Linked DNA regions of Homo sapiens. The protein of the gene in region 1 purifies or fractionates together with the protein of each later gene. This does not show direct contact. Each region holds a gene or a part of one and is shown in the gene's direction. Other genes may lie near its edges.

Region 1 (8,425 bases):
CCACCGTGCTGGTATTACGGGTGTGAGCCACCGTGCTGGGATTACGGGCGTGAGCCACTGTGCTGGGATTACGGGCGCGAGCCACTGTGCTGGGATTACAGGTGTGAGCCACCCTGCTGGGATTATGGGTGCGAGCCGCCGTGCTGGGATTACAGGTGTGAACCACTGCTCCTGGCCTTTATTTCAGCATTCTGTTTCAGTGTTTCACATTGGCCACTTAGCTAGATCCGTTTGTCTTCTGCAGTACTGTGCTGATCCAGAGTATATGCTAAGACGGAAAGCGCTTTGGAGGTAAAGTTTAAAAAATACAAGGGCTTCAAAATAGTACTAGTAATTTGATCCATTCACAAAAGGACAAAGGCTGGACAGAGACGTGAAGAAATGAATCATTTACGCAATGATTGGGGTGTTCCAATTATGTGTGATTTTGTGTTTTCTGCCGTTTCATTTTGTATTGCCATAATCATTTTGACAATGAATACAAATCAAATAGCACCCAAAATTGTGAAGGATACGGAACCTCATTGATGAGTCAGGATAGACTGTGGGTACCTAGATGGTAGAGACATAGTATAGTAGACTTTGGGACATAGAGGGTGGAATGACCTTTGGTGGCCTGGGAAAAGTCCCGCCTGTGAGATGTCCCTAGCAAAATCAAGACCAGGAGTGCTGATGTGCATTATCGTCATGAACATGTATTGGATGCTTACTGTATACCAAGCACCAGCCAAGTACTTCCATGTGGTTCTTCATTTAGCCCTCACGACCCCATGAGATAATCACTATTCACATTCCATTTTACAGAAGACAAAACGGAAATAATTTGCTCAAGGTCACACAATTAGAAAGGAGTAGAATCTGGGCTGGGCACAGTGGCTCACACCTGTGATCCCAGCACTTTGAGAGGCTGAGGTGGGTGGATCACTTGAGGTCAGGAGTTCGAGACCAGCCTGGCCAACATGGTGAAGCCCCATGTCTACCAAAAAATACAAAAATTAGGGAGGCCGAGATGGGCGGATCACCTGAGGTCAGGAGTTCGAGACCAGCCTGACCAACATGGAGAAACCGCATCTCTACTAAACATACAAAATTAGCCGGCATGGTGGTGCATGCCCGTAATCCCAGCTACTCGGAGGCTGAGGCAGGAGAATCGCTTGAACCCGGGAGGTGGAGGTTGCTGTGAGCTGGGACAGTACCATTACACTCCAGCTCTGGGCAACAAGAGTGAAACTCTGTCTCAAAAAAAAAAAAAAAAAAAAATCTGGGCGTCGTGGTGCACGCCTCTAGGCCCAGCTATTCAGGAGGCTGTGGCATGAGAATAGCTGATGTTTCAGTGAGCCGAGATGGTGCCATTGCACTCTAGCCTGGGTGACAGTGAGACTCTGTCTCAAAAAAAAAAAAAAAAAGTAGTGGACTCTGGATTTGACCTTGAGCACCCTGTACAAAGCCACACCTCATTTGCCAGGCCACCAAGCAGGGGAACTGTTTTCCAAATGTTCTCTTGGAAAGCTGGGTGTAGTGGCTCACAACTGCAATCCCAGTATTTTGGGAGCCTGAGGTGGGAGGATCACTTGAGCCCAGGTGTTCAAAACCAGCCTGGGCAACATTGACCCTGTCTCTGCAAAAAATACAAACATTAGCCAGGCATGGTGGCTCACGCCTGTAGTCCCAGCTACTCTGGGGGCTGAGGTGGAAGGACCGCTTGAGCCCAGGAGGCTGAGGCTGCAGTGAGCTATGAGCATACCACCGCACTGCAGCCTGAGTGACAAAGCAAGACCCTGTCTCAAAAAAATTTTACAAATTTTCTCTTAGGACTCATCTAACTTTCCTGTGAATGTTCCCTTTTTCCTTGAGCTAATGAGGGAGGTTGCCCGTCAGATCTCCTTTCACCCAAATGGAACATGTTGCTTTTCCTTAGAGATCCTTGATCCATGGTCAGTCTAGACCCTATTGGGTTGATGAGTAAGTTTCTTTAGGGGCTCTGTGAACAACTTTGAGAACAACTTTGTGTGCTGGTGCATTGATGTGTTTTTTGGGGAAAGCATCTGTAACTTCCAGCATATTCTTGAGAAGGGTTGACTTAGAAGTCTCCTGACTGTACTGTTTTCAGTCTTGTTATCTCCCTCCAGCAATTATATTTTATTTTTTGAGATGGAGTCTCACTGTGTTGCCCAGGCAGGAGTGCAATGGTGAGATTTCGGCTCACTGCAACCTCTGCCTCTGGGTTCAAGCGATTCTCCTGCCTCAGCTCCCAAGCAGCTGGGACTACAGGCATGCGCCACCACGCCCGGCTAATTTTTTTTGTATTTTTATTAGAGATGGGGCTTTCACCATGTTGGCCAGGCTGGTCTCAAACTCCTCACCTCAGGTTGTCCACCCACCTCAGCCTCCCAAAGTGCTGGGATTAGAGGCGTGAGCCACCGAGCCCGGGCACACTATTTTTAACTGGAAGCTGCTTTCCTATGTCAGTCCTCTAAACATTAATTTTTATAAAAGTGTGTAAAACCTTCCTAGGAAAGATAAAAATAAATTTTAAAAATTGTTTCTAAATGAAATGTCAATATCAGAATTTGAACAACCACTTAAGCTATGGAGTTTTCTGAAATGAATAACCATTAACTGTGTTTGGTTTTCAGCCCCTGTCTATTAAGTGTATTCAGTGTTTTCAGGCCTATCACAATCGTTTTTCCTTTTTTTAAAAAAAATTGAAGGCTGGGTGTGGTGGCTCACACCTGTAATCCAAGCACTTTGCAAGTCCGAGGCAGGTGGATCACCTGAGGTCAAGAGTTTGAGACCAGCCTGGCCAACATGGTGAAACCTCATCTCTACTAAAAAAATAAAAATTAGTAGGCCAGGCGTGGTGGCTCACACCTGTAATCCCAGCACTTTGGGAGGCCGAGGCGGGTGGATCACATAAGGTTGGGAGTTCGAGACCAGCCCGACCACCACGGAGAAACCCCGTCTCTACTAAAAATACAAAATTAGCCAGGCATGATGGCAGGTGCCTGTAGTCCCAGCTACTCGGGAAGCTGAACCAGGAGAATCGCTTGAACCTGGGAGGCAGAGGTTGCAGTGAGCCGAGATCTCGCCATTGCACTCCAGCCTGGGCAACAAGAGCGAAACTGCGTCTCAAAAAAACAAAAAACAAAAAAATTAGCTGGGTGTGGCGGGGCAGGTCTGTAGTCTCACCTACTCGGAAGGCTGAGGTACGATAATCACTTGAACCCGGGAGGTGGAGTTTACAGTGAGTCGGGATCCTGCCATTGCACTCCAGCCTGGGTGACAGAGCAAGACTGAAAAAACCAAAAATTTAAAAAAAAAACACTTCCCTCCTAAGGTTCAATCCAATTCATTTAAACTTTTGCGTGTTTTTCTTATATCAGTTAAAATAGGGATTCAATATCCTTAGAAATATAGCCTTTTCTGTTTTAAATATAACATCTAAAAATTGTAGTAAAATACAAATAACAAATATTTACCATGTTCATCATTTTTAAGTCTAAAGTTCAGTGGCGTTAGATACGTTCCTGTTGTGCAATATTATAGACTTCCTTTTTTTTTTTTTTTTTTTTTTGAGACGGAGTCTTGCTGTGTCCCCCAGGCTGGAGTGCAGTGGAATGATCTTGACTCACTGCAACCTCTGCCTCCCTGGGTTCAAGCGATTCTTTTTGTTTTTGTTGTTGTTGTTTGTTTGTTTGTTTGTTTTTGAGACGGAGTCTCGCTTTGTCACCCAGGCTGGAGTGGTGGAGTGCAGTGGCGCGATCTCGGCTCACTGCAACCTCTGCCTCCCGGGTTCACGCCATTCTCCCGCCTCAGCCTCCCGAGTAGCTGGGACTACAGGCACCCGCCACCAGGCCTGGCTAATTTTTTTGTATTTTTTAGTAGAGACGGGGTTTCACCGTGTTAGCCAGGATGGTCTCGATCTCCTGACCTCGTGATCCGCCCGCCTCGGCCTCCCAAAGTGCTGGGATTACAGGCGTGAGCCACCGTGCCCGGCCTCAAGCGATTCTCTTGCCTCAGCCTCCCTAGCTGGGATTACAGGTGCGCGCCACCACGCCCGGCTAATTTTGTATTTTTAGTAGAGACAGGGTTTTGCCATGTTGGGCAGGCTGGTCTTGAACTCCTGACCTCAGGTGATCCGCCCGCCTCGGCCTCCCAAAGTGCTGGGATTACAGGCGTGAGCCACAGCGCCCGGCCAGCTTTTCAATCTTCCAAATTTTGGGGGGATGTACTTAAAAAAATGATCTGAAAACATTTTCCTTAGAGTTTAAAATATGAACTTGAGAGTTTTTTTGTTTTTTAATATGGAGTCTCACTCTGTCGCCCAGGCTAGACTGCAGTGGGGCGATCTCGGGTCACTACAACCTCCACCTCTCGGGTTCAAGCAATTCTCCTGCCCCAGCATCCCCAGTAGCTGAGATTACAGGCGCCCGGCACCACGCCGGGCTGATTTCTGTATTTTTAGTAGAGAAAGGGTTTCACCATATTGGCCACGATGGTCTCAAACTCCTGAACTCAGATGATCCGTCCACCTCGGTCTCCCAAAGTGCTGGGATTACAGGCGTGAGCCACTGCGCCCAGCCAAATGTGAGGGTTTTAATGAACATCTCATATCTTCTGGTTGATTTGAGCAAAGCTCCTGCCCCCTGCCAGGCTTTGGGTTCGGCCTCCCCCAGACCGGGTCTCCGGATTCGCAGCCCCCTGGGCGGGGTCTCCATGTCGCCCGCAGCGCGATGACGTCACGTCTGCGGGTCCCGCCCCCACGTAGGTCTCGGCCCTTCGGACCCGGCGCCCAGCCCCCGTTCGCCCTGCCAGGCCCGGGCCGCCCGCTTGCATCCACCTCCTGTCCGGACAAGGGGTCGCCTCGTGAGGAAACTAGTCTGGAGTTCCCACGCCCGTCCCGGAGGAGGACGCGGGCGGGGCGCCCGAACTGCGGGGAGAGGGCGATTCCGCCCCGGGCTGAAACCAGTTCGCCCAGAAGCCAGTGTCCCCGCAGGGCGGGACAGCCACGCGTGTTCGCAACGCTCCCGTCACTCACCGGCAGGGGGTGGGCCCTAGGGAACTACCCAGTCAGGACGGGCGGGGGCGGGGCCGAGACAAGTATCCAATGAGGGACGCCCAATCGGAATCCGGGGAACTGCCCAATTTACAGCGCCAGGGGACGGACTGGGGAATTCTCCAATCAGAGTCGCCGACGTTGGCAGCACTGTCCAATCAGAAGCGCGGCTTCCCGAGCTCTGTCTAATCAGGCCCCTGGGACGGGACGCCTCTGTCCTAGCCGTGAGTGCCCCGCCTGCCCCTAGCGGTCCCTGGCGTCCCGGTTCCTGTCGCGCTCACCTGCGCCGGTAGCGAAGAAATCGCCCCGGGACATGGTGAGTGTGGCGCAGGAGAGGATCCCGGTGCGGGGCAGCAGGAACCGGCGACCGCCCGAGACCGCGGCTTGGGGGGAGCTGAGGGACGCGGGGGGCGGCCCCGGCGAGGGCGGCGCAGGACGGGAGCCTGGGCCCCGGGGGTCCCGCCCGGCCCCGCCTCCCGCGCTGAGGTCGCGGCTAGGGCGCTCCGAGCTCCGGGTCCCCGCCCGCCTCTGGCCCCAAGGCTGCAGAGCGGGGAGCGGCGCCCGGAGCCCGACTCCGTCCCCGTCGTCCCGGGGTCCCCGCGTCCCTGCGCTCCCGACCCCCCACGCCCCGCCCGGGGCCGCGACGCCTCGGAGCGTTTCGCTGCGGCTTCGGGACCCCCGGGCCGCGGGAGGCAGAGTCGCCCGAGACCCCGAGGTGCGGTCCAGGCTCCCCCGGGACCCGCCCTGGGGCCGACGCCGCGGTGCCTCCTGGGGTGCGGGTCCCTGGTCGGTGCCGCCTCCGCTCGCGCTCCCGCGGCTCAGCTCCTTGGAGGCCCCGCGCCTCCGGCCGCGGTCTCTGGGGGACCCTGGGTTCCTCCCGGGACAGCCCGGGAGCGGTGGGGCCTCGGCGGGGGCGGAGACGCCCCCACCTGCAAAGGCAGCCCCTGGGGCGTGCGAGGTTTCCTCCCCTGAGTCCCGGTTTTCCTTCTTGAGGACTTCTTGTCCCCTCTGACCCCAAGATGCCTGGGGTAGGTAAGGGGAAAAAAAACAAGGGTTCCTGGTCCCTGGGCTCTCACACACAAGGAAGAAAAGTAACTGAAAAGACTAGAGAAACAAGGGAGAGCGAGGACCCCAAAAGCAAACGCACGCAGACCCACAGCGGGGACGCCCGGGAGGCTGGTGCATTAGTGTCCTCGGACTGCTGTAGCAACTGACTGCAAACGAGGGGGCTAAAACCACGGAAATATATTCTTTCACGGTTCCCTAGAAAGTGTGGATTTGAAGACGTTTCTCAGTTCTGTTTTGAGTACTAGCAATGGGATTCCTTGCTGAGGCAACACCTGAGTTGGGGGTGGGAGGGCGTCCGTCGTGGTAGCCTGGCCAGACTTGACCCCTCCCTGGGTTTGTCACTGTGAAAAGATTTTCCTTTTTTCGAGTCAGCAGTTTTTAGGAAGTGAAACGTACATTTAATTAGTAGAAGTTGGAAGATAAAATATTTCCAGGCCGGGCGCGGTGGCTCAAGCCTGTCATCCCAGCACTGTGACAGGCCGAGGGGAGCAGATTACTTGAGGTCAGGAGTTGGGGACCAGCCTGGCCAACATGGAGAAACCCCGTCTCTGCTAGAAATACAAAAATTAGCTGGGCGTGGTGGCGGGTGCCTGTAGTCCCAGCTACTCGGGAGGCTGAGGCGGGAAAATCACTTGAACGCAGAAGGCGGAGGTTGCGGTGAGCTGAGAACGCGCCATTGCACTCCAGCCTGGGTGACAGAGCGAGACTCCGTCTCAAAAAAAAAAAAAAACTTCCAACGGGGTGAATTTCAGGAAAAAAATTAAAATCTGTGTCTTACATTCCATTTGTTAAACATTCCCTGGAGTGTGTGTCGTTTCTCAGATCTGTTATTTTCTGTTTTCTTTTATTACTATTATTTTTTTGGGAGCTCTGTTGCCCATGCTGGAGTGCACTGGTGCGATCACAGCTCACTGCAGCCTCCACCTCCTGGGCTCAAGCAATCTTCCTGCCTCAGCCTTCTGAACACAGGGACTCCAGGTGTGTGCCGCCATGCCTAAGCTTTTGTATTTTTTTGTTTCTAGGGATGGGGTCTCATTCTGTTACCCAGGCTGGTCTCGAACTCCTGAGCTCAGGTGATTCTCCCTCCTCGACCAGCCTTGTTCTTTTCTTTTGAATGACAATAAATAGGATTCCAGGGCCTAAACTTCAAAATGTTACTGGGGAGAAGAGTCTCAGAGAAACAGAGAAAATCTCCTTTCCACCATACGTGCAGAAAAATGAATACATTGCCACGAAACATGTTGCAGATAAATTATACAAATTTACCAAAATATGTTATTCTCCTTGACATGGTAGAGAATTTTTGACGGTGGATGATTCTGTTCTGCTTCCAATACTGCAGTACCCTTACCTTAATTCTATAATACATTTTTTGTTGTTCCTGAAATAGGTAGAATACAAGATATTTTTCTTGTTTAGATGACAATTTGTCCCAGCTCCTTATATTAAAGTGTTTATCCTCTGCAATGCCGGCCCTGGCACTGATCAGATTTCCCCGAACACAGGGGCTGCCTCAGGGCTGTGTCCCTTTACTTTGTTTTTTTGTTTTGTTTTGTTTTGAGACAGGGTCTCGCTCTATTGCCCAGGCTAGAATGCAGTGGTGCTGTCTCGGCTCATTGCAATCTCTGCCTACTGGGTTCAAGTGATTCTCCTGCCTCAGCCTCTAAAGTAGCTGGGACTGTAGGCACCTGCTACCATGCCTGCCTAATCTATCTTTCTTTTCTTTTCTTTTTTTTCTTTCTCCCTCTTTCCTTTCTCTCTCTCTCTTTTCTTTTTTTTTTTTTTTTTTTTAAAGAGGGAGTTTCACCCTTTTCGCCCAGGCTGGAGTGCAGTGGCAGGAACTTGGCTCACTGCAATCTCTGCCTCCTGTGTTCAAGCAATTCTCCTGCCTCAGCCTCCTGAGTAGCTGGGATTACAGGCATCCGCCACCACGCCCAGCTAATTTTTGTATTTTTAGTAGAAATGGGCTTTCACCACATTGGCCAGGCTGGTCTCGAACTCCTGACCTCAGTTGATCTGCCCGCCTCAGCCTCCCAAAGTGCTGGGATTACAGGCGGGAGCCACTGCACCTGGCCATTTTTATGTATTTCTAGCAGATACAGGGTTTTGCCATGTTGGCCAGGCTGGTCTCGAACTCCTGACCTCAGGTGGCCCGCCCGCCTCAGCCTCCCCGAGTGCTGGAATTATAGGTGTGAACCACCATGCCCCCAACCAGGGTGTTTTAAAATTGGCGGCTGGTCACAGAGGTCCCCTGTGCCTGGCTGTGCCAAGATTTCAGACACCCAGGAGGAAAGCAGATCT
Region 2 (8,138 bases), on another chromosome or scaffold:
GCTTCTATGTGCATAAAACAAATACATGGGATTACAAGGCAAACCAACTATATTGAAATACAGTTGCCTCCTTGGATCCTATGGAGGTCCAAGTACTCAAGTGAAAAATTTCCATAAGAGCTGGGTGCGTTGGCTCACACCTGTAATCCTAGCATTTTGGGAGGCCAAGGCAGGCGTACTGCCTGAGTTCAGGAGTCTGAGAACAGCTCAGGCAACACAGTGAAACCCTGTCTCTACTAAAATACAAAAAATTAGCTTGGCATGGCAGCATGCGCCTGTAGTCTCAGCTACTTGGGAGGCTGAGGCAGGAGAATTGCTTGAACCCGGGAGGTGGAGGTCGCAGTGAGCCGAGATCGTGCCACTGCATTCCACCCTGGGCAACAGAGCGAGACTTCGTCTCCAAAAAAAAAAAATTTTCCATAAGATTCTTAGTTCTTTCTAAGCATTACTATATTTGTCTTTCTTTTTCTTTTTATTTTTTGAGACAGAGTCCTGCTCTGTTGCCTAGGCTGGAGAGCAGCGGCGTGATCTTGGCTCACTGCAACCTCTGCCTCCTGGATTCAAACGATTCTCCTACCTCAGCCTCCCGAGTAGCTGGAATTACAGGCACGCACCACCACATCTGGCTAATTTTGTATTTTTAGTACAGATGGGGTTTCACCATGTTGACCAGACTGGTCTCGAGCTCCTAACCTCAAATGATCTGCTCACCTCGGCCTCCAGGTGTGAGCCACAGTGCCAGGCCTATATTTGTCTTTCTAACATGCCAGGAGGAAATTGAGACATGAAAAGGGTAAGTACCTTGCTGAAGACCACTGTGACATAAAAAATACATATTTGGGCCAGGCACTGTGTCTCACACCTATAATCCCAACATTTTGGGAGGCTGAGGTGGGAGGATCACTTGAGCCCAGGAGTTTGAGACCAGGCCCTGGCAACATAGGGAGACATTGTCTCTACTAAAATTTTAAAAATTAACTGGGCATGGTGGCAAGTGCCTGTAGTCCTGGCCACTCAGAAGACTGAAGCAGGAAGATCACTTGAGCCCAGGAGTTCTAGGCTGCAGTGAGCTATGATCACACTACTTCAGTGCAGCCTGGGCAATAAAGTGAGATCCTGTATCAAAGCAAGAAAGAAAGAAAGAGAGAAAGAGACAAAGAAAGAAAGAAGGAAGGAAGGAAGGAAGGAAGGAAGGAAGGAAGGAAGGAAGGCGGGCGGGCAGGCAGGCAGGCAAACGAGACAGACAGAAGGAAAAGAAACAAAGAAAGAAAAGATATATATTTGCTCTCTGTCCCCAGTCCTGACACAGAGCTCCTAAATCTCTTGGAATTTCCCGGTTGATAGGAGTGTCTTTTTTTCTAATATTCTTGTTGGGCTCCTGGATAGCTTCAGGATAGGGGCTGGTCACCAGCAAATTCAAGCTATGATTAGAAGCTTAAAAATGTTGGCCCCATACCTACCCTATCCTCTGTGGAGGAGAGAGTAGTTGAAGATTGAGTTAATAATCAATTATGGTTACATTGTCAGAGGGTTCAAACCAGAGCGACTCCGTTTTGAGTGCGGGCTAGGAAAATGAGGCTGGGACTTGCTGGGCTGCATTCCCAGAAAGTTAGGCATTTCTAGCTTCTAAACATTTACAGTTAAGGGAACAGATTGATAATGTTTACTAAACAGACCCAGACTTGGGAGTGTCCTGATGTCCCTGATACCTTGAGAGCAAAAGCATTCCTAATTTTGCTTTAAAGATAATAATATTAATTCTTGCAAAATATGGTAATTAAGAAAATTAATCTTTTACCACAAACCCTCGTAGCAGAGCACATCTTCCCATGATCTTTTTTTTTTTAACTCCTCTATAAATGAATATTGTACCTAGAGTGGATGCATTCCTCTTCTTCCTTTTGGGAACGCCCTACTCTGTCTATAGAGTAAGTGGACATTCACCACTTCACTGTCTTAAACTTGCTTTTGCTTTGGACTGTGGACTTGCCCTGAATTCTTTCTTGTGCGAAATCCAAGCACCCTCTCTTGGGATCTGGATTGGTACCCCTTTCTGGTAACAACATTATGAAGCCTCCACAGAAATCCCTGAAGTACGGGGTTCTAAGAGCTTCTGAGTTGGTGAACACATCCATATCCCAAAAAGGTCATACACCCTGATTCCATGGGGACAGAAGTTCCTGCACTTAGGATCCTTCCAGATCTTGTTTTATGTACCTCTTCATCCGGCTGTTCATCTGTATCCTTTGTAATATCTTCTGTTATAAATCAATAGACTGGTTTGGGATGGGAGGAGAAGATTGTGGGAATTCCTGATTTATAGCTGGTTGGTCAGAAGTACAAGTGACAACCTGGGATTTGCAATTGGTATCTGAAGTGGGGGCAGTCTTGTAGGACTGAGCCCTTAAGGGTTTGGTGCATAGTATTGAATTAAATTTAACTGTACAACACCCAGTTGGTAGACACTAAATTAAAGAGTGGAGTTTATAATAAGAAATAATTGGAGACTTGTTTGGTGGGGAAAAACCTCCACACATTTGGAGTCAGAAGTGTTGAAACTACAGAAAAATAGCTTTGTGTTTCTTTTCCTTTAACAATGCATCTAGTAAGTGGCCAAGAAAGGATTCAAACCCAGGCAGTCTGACTTCACAGTTTTGTTTTGATATTATGCAGATAGGATCCCCTAAATTCATTAATGGTTGCTGTAGCATGTATTGCAGTACTTGTACAGAAGAAACAACTGGTAGTACTCCATGAACTCCATTCTCTGGTTTAGTGAGCATTACACGATGGCTTGGTTATCTGGGGGAGGTACTGGCCTTCAGAATTAATCCAGGCTCCAATTTTTTTTTCCTTGTCTCCAATATCAGAAGACATTGAGTCCCCTGTCCTTCTGGTTTAAACCACTACTTGTTTGGTTTTCTTTTACTTGTAGCGAATATGTTAACTAATATATCCAATAATGGCTAAGATTGAGTGCAGTACTCTGCCAAACCAGAAGAAGGGAGGCTTACAGCAAATTACATTTGGTTTATAAACATAAATTAAATGTGATATTTCTATTTTATATATTTTATTATTATTTTGTAGAAATGAGGGTCTTGCTATTGCCCAGGCTAATCTCGAACTTCTTACCTCAAGGGATCCTCCCTCATCGGCCCCACAAAGTGTTGGGATTACAGATGTGAGCCACCTCACTTGGCCTAAATGTGACATATCTTATTCTCATGCTAAAGAATAAACTCTGTACCCACCGTGTAATACTATTTTTCTCATAATGTTTATTGTGGAATTAAGGAGATAATATGGTCTCAGGAAAGTTGTGTTGAGTGGTAGTCATCATCATTACTGCTATTCTCATTACGTTGAATGTTTGGAAGCTGTGGGAAATGGGAAAGAGGAGGAAATTGGGAAAATAAATGAAAATAGCCTTACAAATTTCAGGTTCTTCAAGTCTCAAGAGCTCCATTTACCCTATAAGTGCAAAATATTTTCACATAAAACCCAGTCTGTGGATCGTTAGTTATTATTAATCTAATAATATCATAAATTGGTACTACTATTCTATTTTCCATTTGGTTAAATGGGAATTTTGAAAACAGAATTATTTTGGCTTTTCACCACAAATATGCTCAGCAACTGGAATTCTTAAATCTGCAGTTTTTTTGTTTTGTTTTGTTTTGTTTTGTTTTTTGTTTTGAGACAGAGTCTCACTCTAGTCACCCAGGTTGGGGTGCAGTAGCACTATCTGGGCTCACACAACCTCCGCCTCCCGGGTTCAAGCGATTTTCCTGCCTCAGCCTCCCGAGTAGCTGGGATTACAGGCAGGTGCCTGGCTAATTTTTGTACTTTTAGTAGAGATGGGGTTTCGCCATGTTGGCCAGGCTGGTCTTGAACTCCTGACCTCAAGTGATCTGCCCGCCTTGGCCCGCCAAAGTGCTGGGATTACAGGCTTCAGCCACCGTGCCCCGCCTAAATCTGCAGTTCTGATGGAATGTTTTGACTGAAGACTGAACGTAGAAACAGTACCTTGGGTTTTGTTGTTGTTATTTTTTCCTAACCCGGCCCCCTATTAGTTTACTATGTATTAGAACCTGAGAGAGGTGACTACTCTGCCAATAAATTGCCACATTCAATATTCTTCGGTTGCCTAATTCAGTGGGAAACACAGAAAAAAAGGTAAAGAGGACATGAAATCAATAATAAATGCATCATCTATACCGGATTGGAATGCCTCTTAACACTCATTCATCTGAGGGCTGAGGGCCTGTGGTAGAAGTTCTTAATCTTGTTTTCAGGGTTTTGAAATTGTGTAACTTTTTTTTCTTTAATGTAATGAGCATGTGTATACACATTTTTTTTTTTCCAGGGGAAACCCTCCATAATTTTTACCAGATTGACAACCGTTCTAGATCCCCCGACAGGTTACGAACTACAATACTAGTTTTTTTTTTTTTTTTTTACCGGTTTGTAAAAGGATGCAATTCTTCGAATATAGTTTTTGCATCCACTTGACGAGGAAGGAGCCTCTACCCTAAACAAAAATGGCGGGAGCTGCTTCACACGTAGTCCCTCACGCAGAAAGCCTGGAAGGCCCCCTCCACTTTCTCTCCACCTTCGCACTCCTGACCCCGGAAGGACTCCGCCTTCTCCATGTCAGACTGCTGCTCAGCGCCAGGCATCAGCTGGGAAGCTGGCGTGGGCAGGCCAGCTGTACCTGGCCTGGAGCTCCAGGTACAGGGCCAGGGGCGGGGTGGGGTGGAGAGGCGGGCGGGAGGAAGCGGAGAGTTGAGCGGCCACGCAGTTGGGGCAGAGGCCTCGGGGCAGGGGTGGCGCGGACTCCATCGCTGGCGTTAGCTCTCGGAGTGCCAGGTGGAGCGGCGGAAAGCCAGAGGGTCTACGGCCGTGCCACCCTGAACACCCCCGACCTCGTCTCATCTCAGAAGCTAAGCAGGGTCGGGCCTGGTTAGTACTTGCATAGGAAAGCAGGAGGGTCCCCACGCCAGAGGGAGGCCTGCAAAGGAAGCGCGGAATTGGGATGGGCTCGCCACTGCTCTGAGCCAGAGGAAGGGTCTGGACGGCCGAGCTGGAGGGACCCCCTTTTCTGGTGTTCTTGGCAAAGAAAAAGGAAGACAGCAGAGGAGAGCTCCGCGAGGGGCTGCTGTGGGGTCGGGGGAGAGCGCGCTGGAGGTAGGGCAGCTGGTGAGGTCTCAGGTTCGGCTTGGATGCGGGTGGTTTTGAGCAGGGAGTGGCTTTTGGATGTGAAAGATTACTCTGCTTTGCAGGTGCTTTAAGAGAATAATTTAGCACGGGAGTATTGTGGTGTCAGGTCCTTCTGTAAAGTTGTTAAATTATCTATTTTCCAGAGGGAAGACTCAGCTTGTTTTTGCACAGGACTTTGAAACCTTTATTATTGTTGTTTTATTGTTGTTGTTATTGCAGCTAAACATGTTTGCTCTGTTCAAAGTGTCAGAGTTAGGTTATATAGATTTGTGCTTCACGTCAATTTTCTTTTTGATACTTCAGACTTTCCTTCCTGTTGGATTATAAAGTCAAAGTTGCAGGATAGAATTTTAAGATGTCTAAGAAACTGTTTATGACACTTATTTTTAATTCCCCAGTAGTTGGAATGTAGAGGAGCAAGTAATATCACACAGGACAATATTTTTGGTTATGTTTTATAGATTCCGTCTATAAATTTGAATAATCATGAAACCCCCTTCATGTTTATTTTTATTATGCTTCTGAAAGCAAATGAAATGACTAGTTTTTTGTTTTTTTTTCTTTAGTTTTTCAATGAATAATGATTAGGTTTGGAATCAACTTCCTCAGTAATATTAAATGAAAAAGAATGAGGTAGTTAGAATGCAAAAATAGAGGTTTGTCATAATATTTTTTCTTTTTTCTTTTTTTTTTTTTTTTGAGGCGGAGTCTGGCTCTGTCGCCCAGGCTGGAGTGCAATGGCGTGATCTCTGCTCACTGCAACCTCCGCCCCTAGGGTTCTAGAAGTTCTCCTACCTCAGCCTTCCGAGTAGCTGGGATTACAGGCGCCCGACATCACTCCTGGCTAATTTTTTTGTATTTGTAGTAGAGATGGGGTTTCGCTATATTGGCCAGGCTGGTCTTGAACTCTTGACCTCAACTGATCCACCCACCTCGGCCTCCCAAAATGCTGGGATTACAGGCGTGAGCCACCACGCCTGGCCGAGGTTTGTCATAATCTTTTAAGAATATCTCTGCAGCCAATTAAAGTGTTTGCTTTATTTTCTTTCTATTCTGCTTAAAAATTTGGAATGCTCCATTATAGGGAAAATTACTTTGGGTGAATTACTCAATACGTTTTTTAAATGCAGTAGCATAGATTGCTTAATGATCCAGAATCTAATTAGTAAAAATGTTTCTCAAAATAAAATGTGTTAATATTTAGGGAGGGGGAAGAATAAATGAGCTTCCCCCCACTTCCTTTTTACTGTAGTAATATTAAAAAAGTAATACATGTAGGCAGGTTTTTAAAAATCAAGTATTACAAACAGACTTATAAGGAAAAGCAGTCATTCTTTGCCCAGCTTTTCTATATCCCTTGTCTTATTCTCCAGAGGACCATTTTTCACTTTCTTAACTGTTCATGGTTTCCTCTGTACTTTTTAATCATATGTCTCTATCACAGGTTGTTGACTGAAATAAATGTATGTCAAGTAGAACTAACTATACTGAATCTAAAAGTTGTACTTAGAACACTGGTAGGGGGGATTAAGTTTATACTGCTGTATCCCTAGTAAGGATTAAGGGAAGCATCAGTAGTAGTAACCCACCCTAAGAGGTATTGCTGTGTTTGATTTTAAAGGAAACCACTACTTAATCAGTGGTTTTGACACTTGTCTGAAAACAGGTGGGTATTAACAGAAGGGGATAGTCTATTGGAGTATAGAAAAAGAGAACATAGAAATGTATGCAGAAATGAAGGGCCTAAAAAAGTGTAGCAAATAATTTTTTTTTTTTTTGGTGTAGGCAGGGTTTCACCATGTTTCCCAGGCTGGTCTCGAACTCCTGGGTTCATGGACTCAAGCAATCCACCCATCTCGGCCTCCCAAAGTCACTCCCAAAGTGCTCAGGCATGAGCCACTCACTGTGCCCAGCCGCAAATAAACTTTTATAGAGGGATTGCTGGTAATTTTTATATTCTGTTATGTAATATACAGCACTACCCAAATAAAAGAAATAATAAATTTGGTAGACATAAACATTGTGGTTATTAGAGAAGCCCATTCTCTTGTGCATTAGAGATAATGCTTAGGCGTTTTCTTGGCCTGAATGAAATATTCCTCAGGACTCTTGATTTTTGCACTCATCAGGCAACATTTTTGACTTATTAGTTCAGCTTCCTATGGTCTTTTATTTCAGGGATGGTATGTTTTGATAGAATATGTACACTAGATCGTTTATTTCTTTATTATAAATAGATAAACTTGTAAAGTGATTTATGCATCAATACCATGTAAATTTGTTTAACATGTGTTCAACTGGGTACAGTGGTAAAATTACGTTTCTGGCTCTATAAAGCAGAGACCCAGACCCTGAACCACTGCCTTAATGACCTCTCTTTGTGTGTCAACTGCTTCTCTGTACTCATCTGACTTTTCTTTTTTTGTTTAAGAGAAATAATACGCATTAAAACTATACCAAAATCATATAGCATATATGTGGCATTTCTTTGAAGATCTTTAAAATGAGACAATAGGAGAATAAATGCGTGAGTTCTGGAGTTCAGTCAGTGAACTCTGAGGTTCTAGCCCCAAGATTCTGTTCCAGATTCCATTCAGCAACCTGCCTGCCACCTACTCTCACCCCCGCAGTTATATGAAGGAAACCAAATGAATGAGAAGTAAATTTTAAATTACTCCCTAAAAAGTGTTAAATTTTTATGTAACCAGAAAAGAGAGAATCTAGAACTCGCAATTTCCTAAGGAAAATTTGCTACCCGGACTCAAAGTTTAAATCTAGCTTTTTTTTTTTTTTAACTTCTTATTTTTTATGCTATCTCCTACAGGAAGGATAGCTTATTGTTTCTTTTACGCGTTTGGTGATTAATAAATATAATTTTAGCTCAAGTGTAATGTCATCAATAATTGACTGCAAAA
Region 3 (7,617 bases), on another chromosome or scaffold:
GAGGTGGGCGGATCACGAGGTCAGGAGATCGAGACCATCCTGGCTAACACGGTGAAACCCTGTCTCTACTAAAAATACAAAAAAATTAGCCAGGCGTGGTGGCGGGTGCCTGTAGTCCCAGCTACTTGGGAGACTGAGGCAGGAGAATGGCGTGAACCCAGGAGGCGGAGCTTGTAGTGAGCCAAGATCGCGCCACTGCACTCCAGCCTGGGCGACAGAGCAAGACTCCATCCAAAAAAAAAAAGTTGATTCTAGGACTCATTACCTGTGAAGCAGTTCAACAGTTGCTGCACCTATCATTTGGTCTCCTAAACACTCAAGACTTAGAAGAGTTCATATCAAATAGTGTTATTGAAGTATGCAGAAATTATATTTCACCCACATCAGTAAGGTCAAATGCCTTATCCTCAGCAATGTGTACCAGGTTGATAGGACATTGCCACAGTCCCACCCTGTCTGATCTATTGGCAATCTTATACAGTCCGATTACATAGTAGAGGTAACGTGGGGTGGGGTCAGGAGCCTGTGCGTGGGTTCCAGCCCACTGGACCCTGCATGGCAGAGACAAGGGGCATGCTCATTAAGGGGAAGGGTACCCCTTGCTATTTACTGTCTTGAAAAATATGCTTCCCTTACTGTTAGTCAGAGTCTTGCTGCTTCAAAACCACATCAGCACAAGAGTGTTTTCTCAGCAGACAACCTCGTGTTTATGCCGTTCTCTACAAACACAGCTATCATTCTTCTTAAAGGGGAAGGCACTGTACTTTGCCTCTGATTCTAAATGGGAATGTTTAAAACCAACCAAGTGCCCGAGTCTAAGGATGTCACGCCAACTTCTACAGCAAGATCGGGACCACTAACGTTACTCTATCACCTTCCATCTTTCTCTCTAACATAACACATGCACACTCTCTCTCTCTCTCTCAGTCTCACTCTCACACTTAGGTTGTTACAAATCCCGCTTTGAAATTCATGTAGTCAGTGAGGTCCTTTGAGGAAGCACAGAAGAGCCACCTCCTCCATGACAAAGTTTATAGCCAGTTGTTCTCACTCATGTGGGCTTCTCCCTGGACTACAGAAGCTCCAGCCCCTCATCATGCTGTGGACTCGCTTTGATGATTGTACTTTAAAGGCCTCAGGGCAGTAGCACTCCTAACCAGAGCTTGGCCTCAGTGCACATTTTAAATGGTGGTTTCCTGGGGGTGCAGAGCAAACAAATCACTTAAGTACATTCAGGGCTTCTGGACAACCAAAATTAACCGATTCAGATGAAGTTATTTCTTCTTTATAGGAAGAAGAAAATCACAAAGGAAATCTTCAAAGGTAAGTAAGATTGATGAAAATAATAGATTACTAGAATAAAAATGTCTTGGTCTTAAAATGTTGTTTTGTCAATGCAGTCTATTTTACCACTCTCTTCAAAATGACTTAAAATTATGCCACTTCTGAAGAAGTGGCTGCTTTATTATTCATTTCATAAACATGGTATTTTTGATTATTAACAAAGAAGTTAGACGTGCTGTGTCACATGTGTATGAGTTTTATGGTAAGGACTTTCCAGTTGTTGTTGTGTTATGTATACAAAGGAATGCTTGTGTTGAGTGGTTTTTGAAAGGTCCATGGAAACCTCTCTTTTCTCATTTAAAGTCTGGGAAAACTCTCTTTTGTATGCTGTGAGATGCTTTATACACTGTATTTAAAAGCTCCACTAAGAGAATTTATTAAAATATTTTCTGGCAGTAGTCCTTGAAGAAGATATATAGTGGTTGATGTGGTTGTTAGTTACACACCAGTTTTTTCCTCCCCAGTTTAATTTCCTCCAGTTTTACTTTTTCATCATTCTCCAAATGAATACATACCGTTTCTACTACATGAAATTTCTTCTCAGGCAATTCAGCATTTCCAGATCGCCTCATCCTTGATTTTCCTCTGAACTTCGAGTCTGTGAATGACTGTCCTCTTCCCATTTGCTCCCTGCCAGATCTCTGCAGCACCTAGCCATGCCTGTGGCACACTTCTGTCCTTCACGCTGTCTTCTCTGGTCTTTCTTGGGTGGTACAGGACAGTACTTGAGAGCTCAGGCTCTAGAGCCAAACTGCCTGGGTTGGTTGGTTGGTTGGTTGGTTGGTTGATTTTTGAAATGGAGTCTCGCTCTGTCTCCCAGGCTGGAGTACAGTGGCACAATCTTGGCTCACTGCAACCTCTGCCCCCTGGGTTCAAGCAATTCTGCATCAGCCTCCCAAGTAGCTGGGATTACAGGCAAACCCCACCATACCCGGCTAATTTTTGTCTTTTAATAGAAACAGAGTTTCGCCATGTTGGCCAGGCTGGTCTCGAATTCCTGACCTCAGGTGATCCACCCGCCTCAGCCTCCCGAAGTGCTGGGATTACAGGCGTGAGCCACTGTGCCCAGCCCAAACTGCCTGGGTTTGAATCGCTTCTGCCTCCTTGGGTAGGTTACTCAACTGCTTTGTGCCTCAGTTTCCTCATCTGTATACAGGACGTATTTTGATTATCTTTTTTTTTTGCAGCTTATGTATGTTAATACACATAATGAAAGCAGCACATGGCACAAAACAAACAGTAAACAGAGTTTAGTCATTACACCCTCCCACCTTCCCCGTTCACAGCAGCAGCCACATCAGTGTTTCCGGTTAGGCTTTGGAGCAACTGTACTTCACCACTCAAGCCATCAACTTTTATGCTTTCAAAAGTAACACATGCTTGTTATAAAATGTAAATATTGGCTGAGGCAGGAAAATTGACCGAACCCGGGAGGCGGAGGTTGCAGTGAACCGAGATTGCGCCACTGCACTACATCCTGGGCGACAGAGTAAGACTCCGTCTCAAAAAAAAAAAAAGATAGATAGATAGATAGATAGTCTCAAAATATCCAAAGTGGAAACTGGATGCGCCCTCCCCACTGTCCCCATGTCCTCTGATTCTGACTGCCCGGTATGTTTCCACCATACTCTCTTCGTTCCACCTGCAAGCGCCTACACATGCTCCAGATGTATCCCGGGTTTTCTCATCATGGTTTTGTTTGCTTTGGCCACTGCTGAGGTTAATGCCTCTGCTTTCTCTGTCTTTATCATCTCTGTTCCACCATATCCATCCATGCCCCAGAGGCACTGAGTTCCCACCCAGGTAGGTGCCACTGATTTAACTCTGAGACAGTTCCTCTGTGGGCAAAAGTGGGAGTTAGATGAGCTATGTCCACAGAAATGTGGAAAGGACCAGGGTGTTGGCATGTGTCCGGCACTTACAGTCCCCAGCGAACAGTGTTCTGAAACTCATCATTAATTCAGCAACTCCTTGAATTGAGAAGAGGGAAATTCATACTTGCTGGAAAGCTCATGACCTTGGGACAAATCAACCCATCCCTACCATTGCCCTTCCTTTCCGGCACTGGATATAGCCAGCTTGTGGTTATTCAAAGCACCACTGGACAGTTTGTAGATTATTTCTAACAACAAAAAGATAACAAGATGGAATGCCTAACGATGTCACTTTTAGCCTGCTGTTTTACCCCGTGGTGCTGACCACATGGACGGGTGCCTTGCCCCCAAGGTGAAGCCAGCTGTCAGCAAAGCTGCCCAGAGCTTTGCTGGTTCTGTGTACCAGCGCACACGGTACAGGGACTTGCTCAGAGCAGACCCCAATTCTGGCCTCATCATCATTAATAGGTCCTATGGAGGAGTGGTCCATACACTCAATCTGGGACCCCTTCCACAGGGCCTGCACTAGTCTAGATCCCTAGGTTTAAGCCTGTGCTTTGTGGGGTGAAAGGAGTATCAGTATGTCCTGTAAGAATCTGGACAGTGAGTCTACAGACACCTCATCGCCCCATCCCACCCCAGCTGGAGGGATTCCAGGCCAAAGAGGTTCTGTTGCCTGAGCCAGCAGGCACAGGCAGCCCCAGCCCCGTTCCTGACCACCACTTCTTTGCCCTGGTGGTAGTCGTGCCCGAGCACTCCGGCCACTTTCTGTCTTAGCCTGGAAGCATTGCTGGCACCCCTGCAGCACCTGCCAGGCATGTGAGAGGCATTCAGCGAACTCATGGCAAATTGAAAGTGCTAACACATGGAAGAATCCACACCAAATCTGTGTCCATCAGGTGGCAGCTTGCCAAAACCTGGCCATCGCCGTGGCTCACCGTCTTCACCCTTCAGCTGTGGTCCGAGTGAGTCTCCTGAGAATTCTCACTGAGGCACTGAGGCCTCAAGTGATTCTCCTGTCTTGGCCTCCCAAAGTGTTGGGATTACGGGTGTGAGCCAGAGTTGGTTGTATTAAATTCTGACCAATGCAAGGCTTCAGGAACAATTCCAGAGCCACGCAGAGTCCAATAAATGCCCGCAGGGTAAGTCTGTGAGTGCAGCACATGAGCAGCTGACAGTGTTCTCCTGGTGTGGGTGGCAGCGGGTGCCTTCACTGACACTTCTCATGCAGGGCAGGACATGGGTGTTGTGGTGTGTCAGAGGCTCCCTGGCAGGTACTGACACCCTCTTTTCTGCTTTTCCCAGGGCGGTGTCCGTGTCCTCCATGTCTGAGTTCCAGCGTCTAATGGACATCTCCCCCTTCCTGCCTGAGAAGGGCCTGCCGTCCACCAGCAGCAAGGAGGATGTCACCCCACCCCTGTCTCCAGACGACCTCAAGTACATCGAGGAGTTCAACAAGAGCTGGGACTACACACCCAACAGGGGCCACAATGGTGGGGGGCCGGACCTTTGGGCCGACAGGACCGAGGTGGGGCGGGCAGGGCACGAGGACAGCACAGAGCCTTTCCCCGACTCCTCCTGGTACCTAACCACAAGTGTCACCATGACCACGGACACCATGACCAGCCCAGAGCACTGCCAGAAGCAGCCACTGCGGAGCCACGTCCTCACCGAGCAGTCGGGGTTGCGCGTGTTACACAGCCCGCCTGCCGTGCGCAGGGTCGACAGCATCACGGCGGCAGGTGGTGAGGGTCCCTTTCCCACAAGCAGAGCCAGAGGGAGCCCGGGAGACACCAAGGGAGGCCCTCCAGAACCCATGCTCAGCAGGTGGCCTTGCACCTCCCCCAGGCACTCCCGGGACTATGTGGAGGGGGCACGGCGCCCCCTTGATAGTCCCCTCTGTACCTCCCTGGGGTTTGCCTCCCCACTGCACAGCCTGGAGATGTCCAAGAACTTGAGTGATGACATGAAGGAGGTGGCCTTCTCTGTCAGGAATGCCATCTGCTCCGGCCCTGGCGAGCTGCAAGTCAAGGACATGGCCTGCCAGACCAATGGGTCCCGGACGATGGGGACCCAGACTGTTCAGACCATCAGTGTGGGCTTGCAGACTGAAGCCCTGCGTGGCAGCGGTGTCACCAGCAGCCCCCACAAGTGTCTCACTCCAAAGGCTGGGGGCGGTGCTACACCCGTGTCGTCTCCTTCCCGGAGCCTTAGGAGCAGACAGGTGGCCCCTGCCATCGAGAAGGTGCAGGCCAAGTTTGAACGCACATGCTGCTCCCCCAAGTATGGTTCTCCCAAGCTGCAGAGGAAGCCCCTCCCCAAAGCCGACCAGCCAAATAACAGGACGTCACCAGGGATGGCCCAGAAAGGGTACAGTGAGTCAGCCTGGGCCCGCTCCACCACCACAAGGGAGAGCCCCGTGCACACCACCATTAATGATGGCCTCTCCAGCCTCTTCAACATCATTGACCACAGCCCCGTGGTGCAGGACCCCTTCCAGAAGGGGCTGCGGGCCGGCAGTCGGTCTCGCTCAGCAGAGCCCCGACCAGAGCTGGGCCCAGGCCAGGAAACAGGCACCAATTCCCGAGGAAGGTCGCCTAGCCCCATTGGGGTGGGGTCAGAGATGTGCAGGGAGGAAGGGGGAGAGGGCACGCCAGTGAAGCAGGACTTATCTGCTCCCCCTGGCTACACGCTCACTGAGAACGTGGCCCGGATCCTCAACAAGAAGCTGCTGGAACATGCCTTAAAGGAGGAGAGGAGGCAGGCTGCCCACGGGCCCCCGGGTCTCCACAGTGACAGCCACTCGCTGGGGGACACAGCCGAGCCAGGGCCCATGGAGGTAATGAATGCTGAGTGCCCCACACCCTTCCCCACCAGCTCTTCCCTTTAGCTGTGGGGCAGGTTGGGACTTGGGATTGTGCTCTGTCATTTGATCTCAGGAATCGTCCATGATTGGTTATTGGGAGCTGGGGAGGTGTTAGGTTTATGGGAGAATAGAATAGGCAGAAAAAGCCCTGAGCAACTTTTTTGAAGAAAATGTTATTTTATTGTCCTTGGGAAATCATATAGTACATGGTTTGATTTGGGTTCTGTCACCAGTCTTAAGTGATTGATCCTTATTTATCAGGGCATTTTATTTGGGGTCAGTTTGCCTTCTTTCTGTGTGAATTCGTGCACATGTACAAACTATGGGATAGTTGTGTCAGGCTTGCTGCATACTGCAGACCTTCATATGTGACAGCATGAGGTGAGCTGGAGAGGGTCTGGACCACATGAGCACGAGCACTTCTCATCAGGAGCCACAAGATCTCGATTCCTGGGCTGGCTTCCTTACAAAACAGCCATCTGGCAGCTCACAAATCACTTACCCTCTTTGTGGCCATGAGCCCCCCTAGCAGTAAAACCAAGTGAAACATATAGACAAAATCAAAATCCTACCCTAATACAATATGATTATCATTATTGCCCTTGATATTACTCACAAATCAATCCACTGTGAATTGGGTTCTGATGCACATCCACATGTGGTGTTTTTGTACACCACTTTACAAAACGCTTCCCATTTCCACTTCAACAATGAGCAAAATGAAAGCCTGATGTTGATGCTGGTGGTGATGGCTATGGTGATGCCACTTTGTGGTTCGTGCAGCACAGAGAGGACGTGTCTGTCCAGCGAGTGATTCCAACTCGCCAGGAGTCCGGATGAACAGGCTTCACACTGGGAACACCTGGCCCCATGAGCACTCTCCGAGCCAGGCTGCTCCCGCAGATGGCGGGGGTCAGAGGAGGAGGAGGACGGCAGCTTGCTCCTGGTCTGCCCGCTGCTTCCTCGCCAGGACCCAAGCAGCCCTGGCTTCATGGGCAGGGAGAGGAGGAAGGTGTATTGCCTGTTTCACCTGGCCCACGTTTCCCACAAGAGGGTAAATGATGGCTGTCTTCCCAGCCTGGCCCACCAATGAATGTTTAACTCAGAATGCAGGCTTGAAATCTGAATAGGTCAGACCTGTGGAACTGCCAATGGCTTACAGAAGTGGCAATTCCATATGGTTCACACCTAATACAAATATTGATACTACATGGCCTACATGTTCCAAGATCTGAGTCTTTGTGATAAAGTTGTTTGCATGCTCTGAGGACAAACTGCTGGTTGAATGTTCTCAGGTGACAAATGGTGTCTTCTTTGGGCTACTGTTACCCCATCCTTCTGGGGTCCTCAGGTAAGTCCTCCTGCCGTGGAACGGTCTGTTTATATGTGAGTGCCCTGCCTTCTTAGGGCTCTGAATCTCAGTTGAAATTGGGGCTATGTCACAAAGCATTAACCGGCTGTGTCTGTATTGTCTGTTTATATTACACACCAAATAGAAATTATTCTTTAAGAACCAAAAAAATGCTTTGAATT
Region 4 (7,617 bases), on another chromosome or scaffold:
TTCTCTTACTTAAACCTATCAATAACCCAGTGAGATATGAGTGCTATTATTATCCCCTTTTGCAAGAGAGGAAACACACGTGATAGGTATAATTTGATGTTTTATGGTCTGAGATCCAATAAGACAACTGAGATAGGTTCTCACCTACATGTATGGCAGTTAAGAACTGGCGAAATATTCAGAATTATTTTATGCATGCAAATAAAATGCCTTTTTTGTTTTGTTCTGAGCGGGATTATACCGCTCTGTGCAGGCCCACAGGAATCAAAGTCGGAGAGAAGGAATATCTTTGCAGCAAGACCCAGGGGCGTTGTATGACTTTAATTTAGATGAGGAATTGGAAATTGATCTTGATGATGAGGCGATGGAAGCTATGTTTGGACAAGACCTGACCAGTGACAATGATATTCTGGGAATGTGGATCCCAGAGGTACTGGATTGGCCTACCTGGGTGTGTGTGACTGCAGCGGGGGCTGCTCTGACTTATTTTCCTGCCCTCCTGTTCATATAGCTTACTAACAGCAGCCTTGCCTAGAGTTGAAACACTCTAAAAAGTCTTTTATCTCATCCTGAGGTTTGGGGATTTAAAGTTATGAGGTTACTTTGATACCTACAAACTAATAAGGAAAAGTCTCTCTTGCTTTCTCTGTGGGATTTTATTGTTTCTCTCCCCAGACAAGATGAATAGAGTCATACTGTGGTAATATTTGATTCTGATGTCAAAGATAAATTACAAAACAAGCATCAGGTTCCAGTAGACGTTGACAGGTTATATAACATGGCTGCTGTGCTCACATTGCTATCTGAATGCATGTTCTTCTCCTTCATAGGTTCCATTTAATCAATGTAATGCCTTATTCTAGGAACCAGTGCTCACCTAGATCTTGTAAATACCTCCATTTAGGGGCAAGGTACATGGTGGATTTGTATATACATTGGTTAGCATTACATTTTTGTAGTAGGGAGACCAAAAAGCTCATAGATGTAAGTCCTACAGGAAAGAGAATCTGCTATATAAATAAGTGAATCATAATGATTTTTCCCAAAAATTCATAAAGTAGGTATGCATTTTGTGACCAGATGAAAATTAGTTCTTTTCACTAGTGGAGTTTTTTTTTTAAAAAGCCTCATTTTGAGATAGGACAGATTGTCATGTTCATTAACTCTTCTCAGTAGGATACTCAGTTACTTGTATTATTGATATAACTTATTAGAGTGAGAGAGGGCAAAGAACACCTTCCGATTGTGTTATCTGAATTCTGATTTGAAAGAAATTTTTTATTTAGCATTAATGAACATGTTGGAAATATTCTAGCATATGTAATAAAGTAATTTAATATAAATAATCTACTTGGTACTTCTTGGTTTTATGTTAAATTGACTAATCATTTGGTATGAAATCCTTTTGTGCAGCATGTTTGTGAGTCTGAAGACAGGGAAGAAGTGGTGGTGTGTGAACTGTGTGAATGCAGCGTCGTCAGCTTCAATCAGCACATGAAGAGAAACCATCCAGGCTGTGGGCGCAGTGCAAACCGCCAGGGCTATCGCAGCAATGGTTCCTATGTGGATGGCTGGTTTGGCGGTGAATGTGGGAGTGGAAATCCGTACTACCTGTTATGTGGCACCTGCAGGGAGAAGTACTTAGCCATGAAGACCAAATCTAAGTCAACAAGTTCTGAAAGGTACCTTGAAATTGTGTAGATATCCAGACCTCCTGAAGATACCTCATACCTTAAGTCTTGGGAACTGTAGATTTTTCACGTGAGGAGTTACATTTAACCTTCCCTGAAATCCCGTGATTCTTACACTTTGGGCAGAAGGGATGGAGGGGTTTCAGAAATTCATGTTCCCAGGAATAATGGCATAGCAACATATCCTTCCCTGGAGTTTGACTGTGTTAACCTCTGACTTGTTGGCAAGTAATGGTCAGGACCCTTGCCTTAACCCTCAGGAGGCTTCTACTCAATTCTTTTCATTTGTATTTTCTACCATATTTCTGGCATTTTAATTAAGATCTTTTTCCTGATGAAAAAAACAGACTTTTGATTAAACGAGTTCCATAAAAATATTATCTCTTTACATCCTTAATCCCTAGAGAGTAGGTTTGTTGCCCTTAATTGTCAACTATTAAAATCTTTAAGGCTTTATGGAATAGAATTTGGTTAAAAGAGTTGTTTTAGGTAACCCAGAAATCTCCCCAGTAGTTTGGTAAAATAATCATTGATTTTGTAAGCATGTGTGTACCTACATACCAGCAGTTTTTATTATGTTAGCCTATAACATGAAACATACTTTTTTATTTTGTGCTGCTTTATTAATGACCTCTTAAAATGTTCTAATGACTTAATTTGCATCTTGGGGTACTAACTGTTTTATATAAAAATGCAATGTTCTTCATGTTTGGTGCAGGTACAAGGGACAAGCTCCAGATCTAATTGGCAAGCAAGACAGTGTGTATGAAGGTAGTTTGTTTTGAGAGCTTCTTTATTTTACATGTTTTTTTATATATCCTCTCTGCTTAACATCTGTTACTAAAATTCACCTTCGTGTGTGTGTGTGTTTGTATTTGTGTACATGTTAACTTAAATTTTCCCTTAAAAACTCAAGGGAATTTAATAGCAACAACGCTGGTTTAAAAGTCAAAGGAAAAGAACGTGGTTTCAAAGACCAACTTTACCACAGAATATTAATTTCTATTAGGTGTATTTTTTTTTCAAAGTAGGGAAAGGATGTGGTATATTTTGAATTTCCACCCTAATTGTGGAAAGTAAAAAATAAATAGAGATGAGCATTGATTTTTCTGGAGCACTCATTTTCTTGAAATAACTCATTCCCTAATGATTACAGACAGCTAAGAACTCTTTGTTGGACCCATGACAATATTTTTAATTAGTTTAAACCTCTATTACCAGCTGTAGCATTTGCTATTGCTGTCAACTTATTTAACTACATTGACTCCCTTTCCCTGAGAGTCTCACTTATGCTTCAGGAGTGCAGTTTGGTTAAGTTTTCAGGAGATGGTGCCATAGTTCATTATGTGGTCACTGGACTTTCAGTCCATCTGCATTTTATGTATGTATGTATTTATTTATTTATTTATTGTTTTTATTTCTTTGAGATGGAGTCTCACTCTGTTGTCCAGGCTGTAGTGCTGTGGCGTGATCTCAGCTTACTGCAGCCACGGCCTCCCAGGTTCAAGCAATTCTCCGGTCTCAGCCTCCTGAGTAGCTGGGATTACAGGCACACACCACCATGCCTGGCTAATTTTTGTATTTTTTGGTGGGGATGGGGTTTCATCATGTTGGCCAGGCTGGTCTCAAATTCCTGACCTCATGTGATCCAGTCGCCTCGGCCTCCCAGAGTGTTGGGATTACAGGCGTGAGCCATCGCATCTGGCTGCTCATCTGCATTTTAGATGTATTTTCAGAACAACCATTGCCAGCAGATTTATGTAATATTTAAATTCACATACTATACATTTATTTATTTAAATTCCAGAAGACTGGGACATGTTGGATGTTGATGAAGATGAAAAGCTAACTGGTGAAGAAGAATTTGAATTACTTGCTGGACCGCTTGGTTTAAATGACCGGCGCATTGTACCAGAACCAGTTCAGTTCCCTGACAGCGATCCACTGGGAGCATCAGTAGCAATGGTCACAGCCACCAACAGTATGGAAGAGACTCTGATGCAAATAGGTAAACTGAAATCCTGATTTGCATTGATTTTATAGCATCTACTATAATTTGTTTCTTAGATAGGTAAATAATAATAATAAAGTAAAAGTAAATAAGACTAATGGTTCAACATTATCTCACCCCAACAAGTCTCTTTAGCCAGTTGTTTTAACATTTTGAAGGTATAATGTGGTATTAAGTTTTGGCTGGGCTTGGTGGCTTATGCTCGTAATCCCAGCACTTTGGAAGGCTGAAGAAAGAAGGTCGCTTGAGGCCAGCAGTTCAAGACCAGGCTGGGCAACATGGTGAGACCCATTTCTATTAAAAAAATGAAGAAAAGTAGCTGGGTGGGTGGTGTGCACCTTTAGTCCCAGCTACTCAGGAGGCTGAGGCAGAAAAATTGTTTAATCCCAGGAGTTTGAGGTTATGGTGAGTGATGATTGAGCCACTGCACTCCAGCCTGGGTGACAGAACCAGACCCTGTCTCAAGAGGAAAAAATAAATGTTTTGATTTTTTTTTGTCTTTCATGATACCGAAGCAATAAAAAGATTTATAGAACTTGTTATTTAAAAAAAAACTTGGTGTTAAGAGAATCCTGTAACCAACTTAAAATTATTGTGCAGTCTTCTTTTTATTTGGGTGAGAGGGTGTGGTAAATTTTTGGTATAGGGAATACAAAATAAAGAATTGGGCAGTATTGGTAATTCAGTCCTTTATAAATTCTCAAAGCACTTATAATCAGTAGATGTGATACATGGGCAAAATGAACAAAACAGAAAATACTTACTGGTAAATTAAGTATAAATACTCCTATGGTAAATACATTGTTAACATAGAAATATCTAAGTTAGAAATATCCAAGTTCAAACTTAGAAATATGTGAGTTTCTCCTAAGAAATTTTCTGTATAACCAAGTTCCAGATGAGCAAAAGACATTGGTTTGTTATGGAACCTCTGTAGAATAGGAAATGTTTTTAGTAGTTCAGATGTATTTTTTTCTTACCTTGTTGAGAACAAAACAGAATTATGTTTTTCAGGTTGCCATGGCTCCGTAGAAAAGAGCTCCTCTGGGAGAATAACGTTAGGAGAGCAGGCAGCTGCCCTAGCAAACCCTCATGACCGTGTGGTGGCTTTAAGGAGAGTGACTGCTGCTGCTCAGGTTCTTCTGGCCAGAACCATGGTCATGAGAGCGCTGTCTCTTCTCTCAGTCAGGTAAGTGTTATTTTATGTCACATGATGCTAAGTTAACTTCTAGTGTACATTAGCTGGAAGTCTGGTGGTGTTTGGGAGGGTGAGATAGAATTTTAGAAGCTTGAATATGTACTGTTGAATGAAAGATGTTAGACGTAGTCATTGTTATTCACTCAATCGGTCATTCAGTTAATACTTGGCTCTTTTTAGGTAGAAAATAATGCCATTATCACAACTGAGTAAACTGCATACATTTTATTTTGTTGCTTGAAATGGGAAACTAAGGCTGTTGATCCCAATGGTGCTGGATCAAAAACTAAAGGTCAAAATGTATTGACCGTCTGTGTAGCTAAGTCAGCCTGCAGATGCCATCATGGGGATCCTTGCCGTGTTGATACTGTGGAGTGTAATGTAAAAAGGGGATGAGAACCAGAAATACCTAAAAGACAGCTGTTTAAGAAGTGATTAAGCAGGAGTATTTAATGGCAAATCAGTGAAGGCAGAAAGATCCTGAAAGAAAAACAAAATTTCCATAAGACTGTGTGCTATTGGCTCAAGGATAGGCAAATAGGATAGTACAGAAGAGAGTTAAGAAACTGACCCATACATATAAATAAACACTTGATTTATGGTTTGATTTATGACAGTGGTTCACACTGTAGAGCAATAGAGAAAGGCTGTTTTTTTCAGTAACTGAAGCAGGGTCTGATGGTTTATCCACATAGAAAAAAAAAGCCTTGGTCCCAACCTCAAACTATATAAAGCAAATAGTTATAAAGTGGCTATTAGATCTAAATATAAAAGAAAAATAAATCAATAAAGTTTATTGAAGGTAACATAGAAGAATTGCTTCTTGGTCTTGGGACAAGCAAAAATTCCTCAAGCAAGTCACAAAAGGAATCTGCCATAAAAGATTGATAAATTGGAATACAATAAAATAGAAAACCTCTGTTTAGCAAAAGTGATTTGAAAAGTAAGAAAGTAAAAAAGCAAGCCATAGAATGGGAGAAGATATTAGTAATGCATCTAACCAACAGAATGTGTAAAGAATTCCTATAAATTAACAAGAAAAAGACAACCCAGAAGAAAGTGGACAAAACACATTAAGAAGTGTTTCACAAAAGAGGATCTCCAAATGGCCAATAAACATGAAAAGATGTTCAACCTCAGTGAGTCTTCAGAGAAATGAAAATTAAAATCCAGTGTGATTGGGAGGCCAAGACGGGAAGAACCCTTGAGCCAGGAGTTTGAGACCAGCCTGGGAAACATAGTGAGACCCTGTCTCAAAAAAAAAAAAAAAAAAACCTAAGACAAAAAACCCACCAATGAGATACCATTGCACACCCACAAGAATGGCAAACATTTAAAACACTAGAGAGAAAAAAGTGACTGAAACAGCTAAAACTCCCATACATTGTTAGTGAGAAAATGAATTGGTATAACCACTTTGGAAAACTGTTCGATAGTATCAACTAAAACTGAACAGGAACATACTCTGTGACCCAGAGATCCACTTCTGGGTATATATCCAACAGAAATACTTAAATATGTGCCCCCTAAAGACCAATCATTCATGGTAGTACTATTCATAATAGCCCCATGTTGGAAACCGCCTGATTGTCATCTGTAGGGATAAATGAACTGTGGCAGATTTCATGTATATGTCAATGAAAACGAACTGCTCAATGCTACAAGATTTGGATGAATCTTACAAACATAATATTGAAGAAGCCAGACACAAAAGAGTACATATATTAATTATTCAATTGATGTAAAGTTCAAAAACAGGCAAAACTAACTTGTAGCTTTAGAAGTCAGGATAGTGGTTACTTCTGAGAGCATCGTGACTGAGAAAAGCCCAAAGCAGGTTTCTGAGGTACTGGCAATGTTCTGTTTCTTGATCTGGAGGGCGGTGACATGGGTTTGTTCAGCTTATGAAAATTTATGCTTTGTGAACATTCCTGTTTTACTTTGTCAGTTCAATTGTACTTCAAGTATATGCCAATACTTATTAAAAGGAGAGAACGTTTAGATGCCAGTTTCCAGCTTGATACCTTTGGCAACTCTTAGGACATGTATGGCTAATGATAGTGCAGCTTACATTTTATTATGGTTGTTGATGCTGTGAATGTTATGTGGGACTGCAAATGGTCCCTTAAGAAATCCATTTTCTTTATCCATCTGAGATGTTTTTCTTTACTGGCAGTGGTTCCAGTTGTAGCCTGGCTGCTGGTCTTGAGTCTCTGGGGCTAACAGATATCCGAACGCTAGTTCGATTAATGTGCTTGGCAGCAGCAGGGAGAGCTGGCCTCTCCACCAGCCCTTCTGCCATGGCTAGCACCTCAGAACGATCACGAGGTGGGCATAGCAAGGCTAACAAGCCTATCTCTTGCCTGGCCTATTTGAGCACAGCAGTGGGATGTCTGGCATCAAATGCTCCTAGTGCTGCCAAACTGCTTGTACAGTTGTGTACACAGGTAAGCTACTTTCAGTACTTTTCCCCGTTACATTGATTATTTCTGACTGATTCTTGAGCCTTTTGAAATGAAATATTTTTGTTCCAAAATTACATGTAAAAATTAAGTCTGTTTTTCCAATTGCTTCTTCAGAACTTGATTTCTGCTGCAACAGGTGTAAATCTAACCACAGTTGATGACTCAATTCAGCGAAAGTTTCTACCCAGCTTTCTCCGAGGAATTGCTGAAGAGAACAAGCTTGTGACCTCCCCAAACTTTGTTGTAACACAG

Evidence for each region.
Region 2: the proteins of ZNF555 (region 1) and MIGA1 purify together in Homo sapiens (affinity purification with mass spectrometry; 2 studies listed by BioGRID and IntAct, with this or other methods). This does not show direct contact.
Region 3: the proteins of ZNF555 (region 1) and MTCL1 purify together in Homo sapiens (affinity purification with mass spectrometry; 2 studies listed by BioGRID and IntAct, with this or other methods). This does not show direct contact.
Region 4: the proteins of ZNF555 (region 1) and HERC1 purify together in Homo sapiens (affinity purification with mass spectrometry; 2 studies listed by BioGRID and IntAct, with this or other methods). This does not show direct contact.

What each region holds. Positions count from the first base shown.
Region 1 is NC_000019.10:2,836,204-2,844,628, forward strand, and holds the start of ZNF555 (zinc finger protein 555), read left to right. Parts: upstream 1-5,271; 5' UTR 5,272-5,369; coding exon 5,370-5,372; intron 5,373-5,956; exon of another isoform or gene 5,957-6,075; coding exon of another isoform or gene 6,076-6,084; intron 6,085-8,425. UniProt on the Homo sapiens protein: May be involved in transcriptional regulation.
Region 2 is NC_000001.11:77,775,003-77,783,140, forward strand, and holds the start of MIGA1 (mitoguardin 1), read left to right. Parts: upstream 1-4,646; 5' UTR 4,647-4,653; coding exon of another isoform or gene 4,654-4,734; intron 4,735-4,802; exon of another isoform or gene 4,803-5,190; intron 5,191-8,138. UniProt on the Homo sapiens protein: Regulator of mitochondrial fusion: acts by forming homo- and heterodimers at the mitochondrial outer membrane and facilitating the formation of PLD6/MitoPLD dimers. May act by regulating phospholipid metabolism via PLD6/MitoPLD.
Region 3 is NC_000018.10:8,820,176-8,827,792, forward strand, and holds part of MTCL1 (microtubule cross-linking factor 1), read left to right. Parts: intron 1-1,291; coding exon 1,292-1,323; intron 1,324-3,995; coding exon of another isoform or gene 3,996-4,041; exon of another isoform or gene 4,042-4,183; intron 4,184-4,523; coding exon 4,524-6,057; intron 6,058-7,379; coding exon of another isoform or gene 7,380-7,435; intron 7,436-7,617. UniProt on the Homo sapiens protein: Microtubule-associated factor involved in the late phase of epithelial polarization and microtubule dynamics regulation.
Region 4 is NC_000015.10:63,655,818-63,663,434, reverse strand, and holds part of HERC1 (probable E3 ubiquitin-protein ligase HERC1), read left to right. Parts: intron 1-230; coding exon 231-451; intron 452-1,413; coding exon 1,414-1,682; intron 1,683-2,409; coding exon 2,410-2,462; intron 2,463-3,498; coding exon 3,499-3,699; intron 3,700-4,701; coding exon of another isoform or gene 4,702-4,716; coding exon 4,717-4,891; intron 4,892-7,076; coding exon 7,077-7,347; intron 7,348-7,479; coding exon 7,480-7,617. UniProt on the Homo sapiens protein: Involved in membrane trafficking via some guanine nucleotide exchange factor (GEF) activity and its ability to bind clathrin. Acts as a GEF for Arf and Rab, by exchanging bound GDP for free GTP.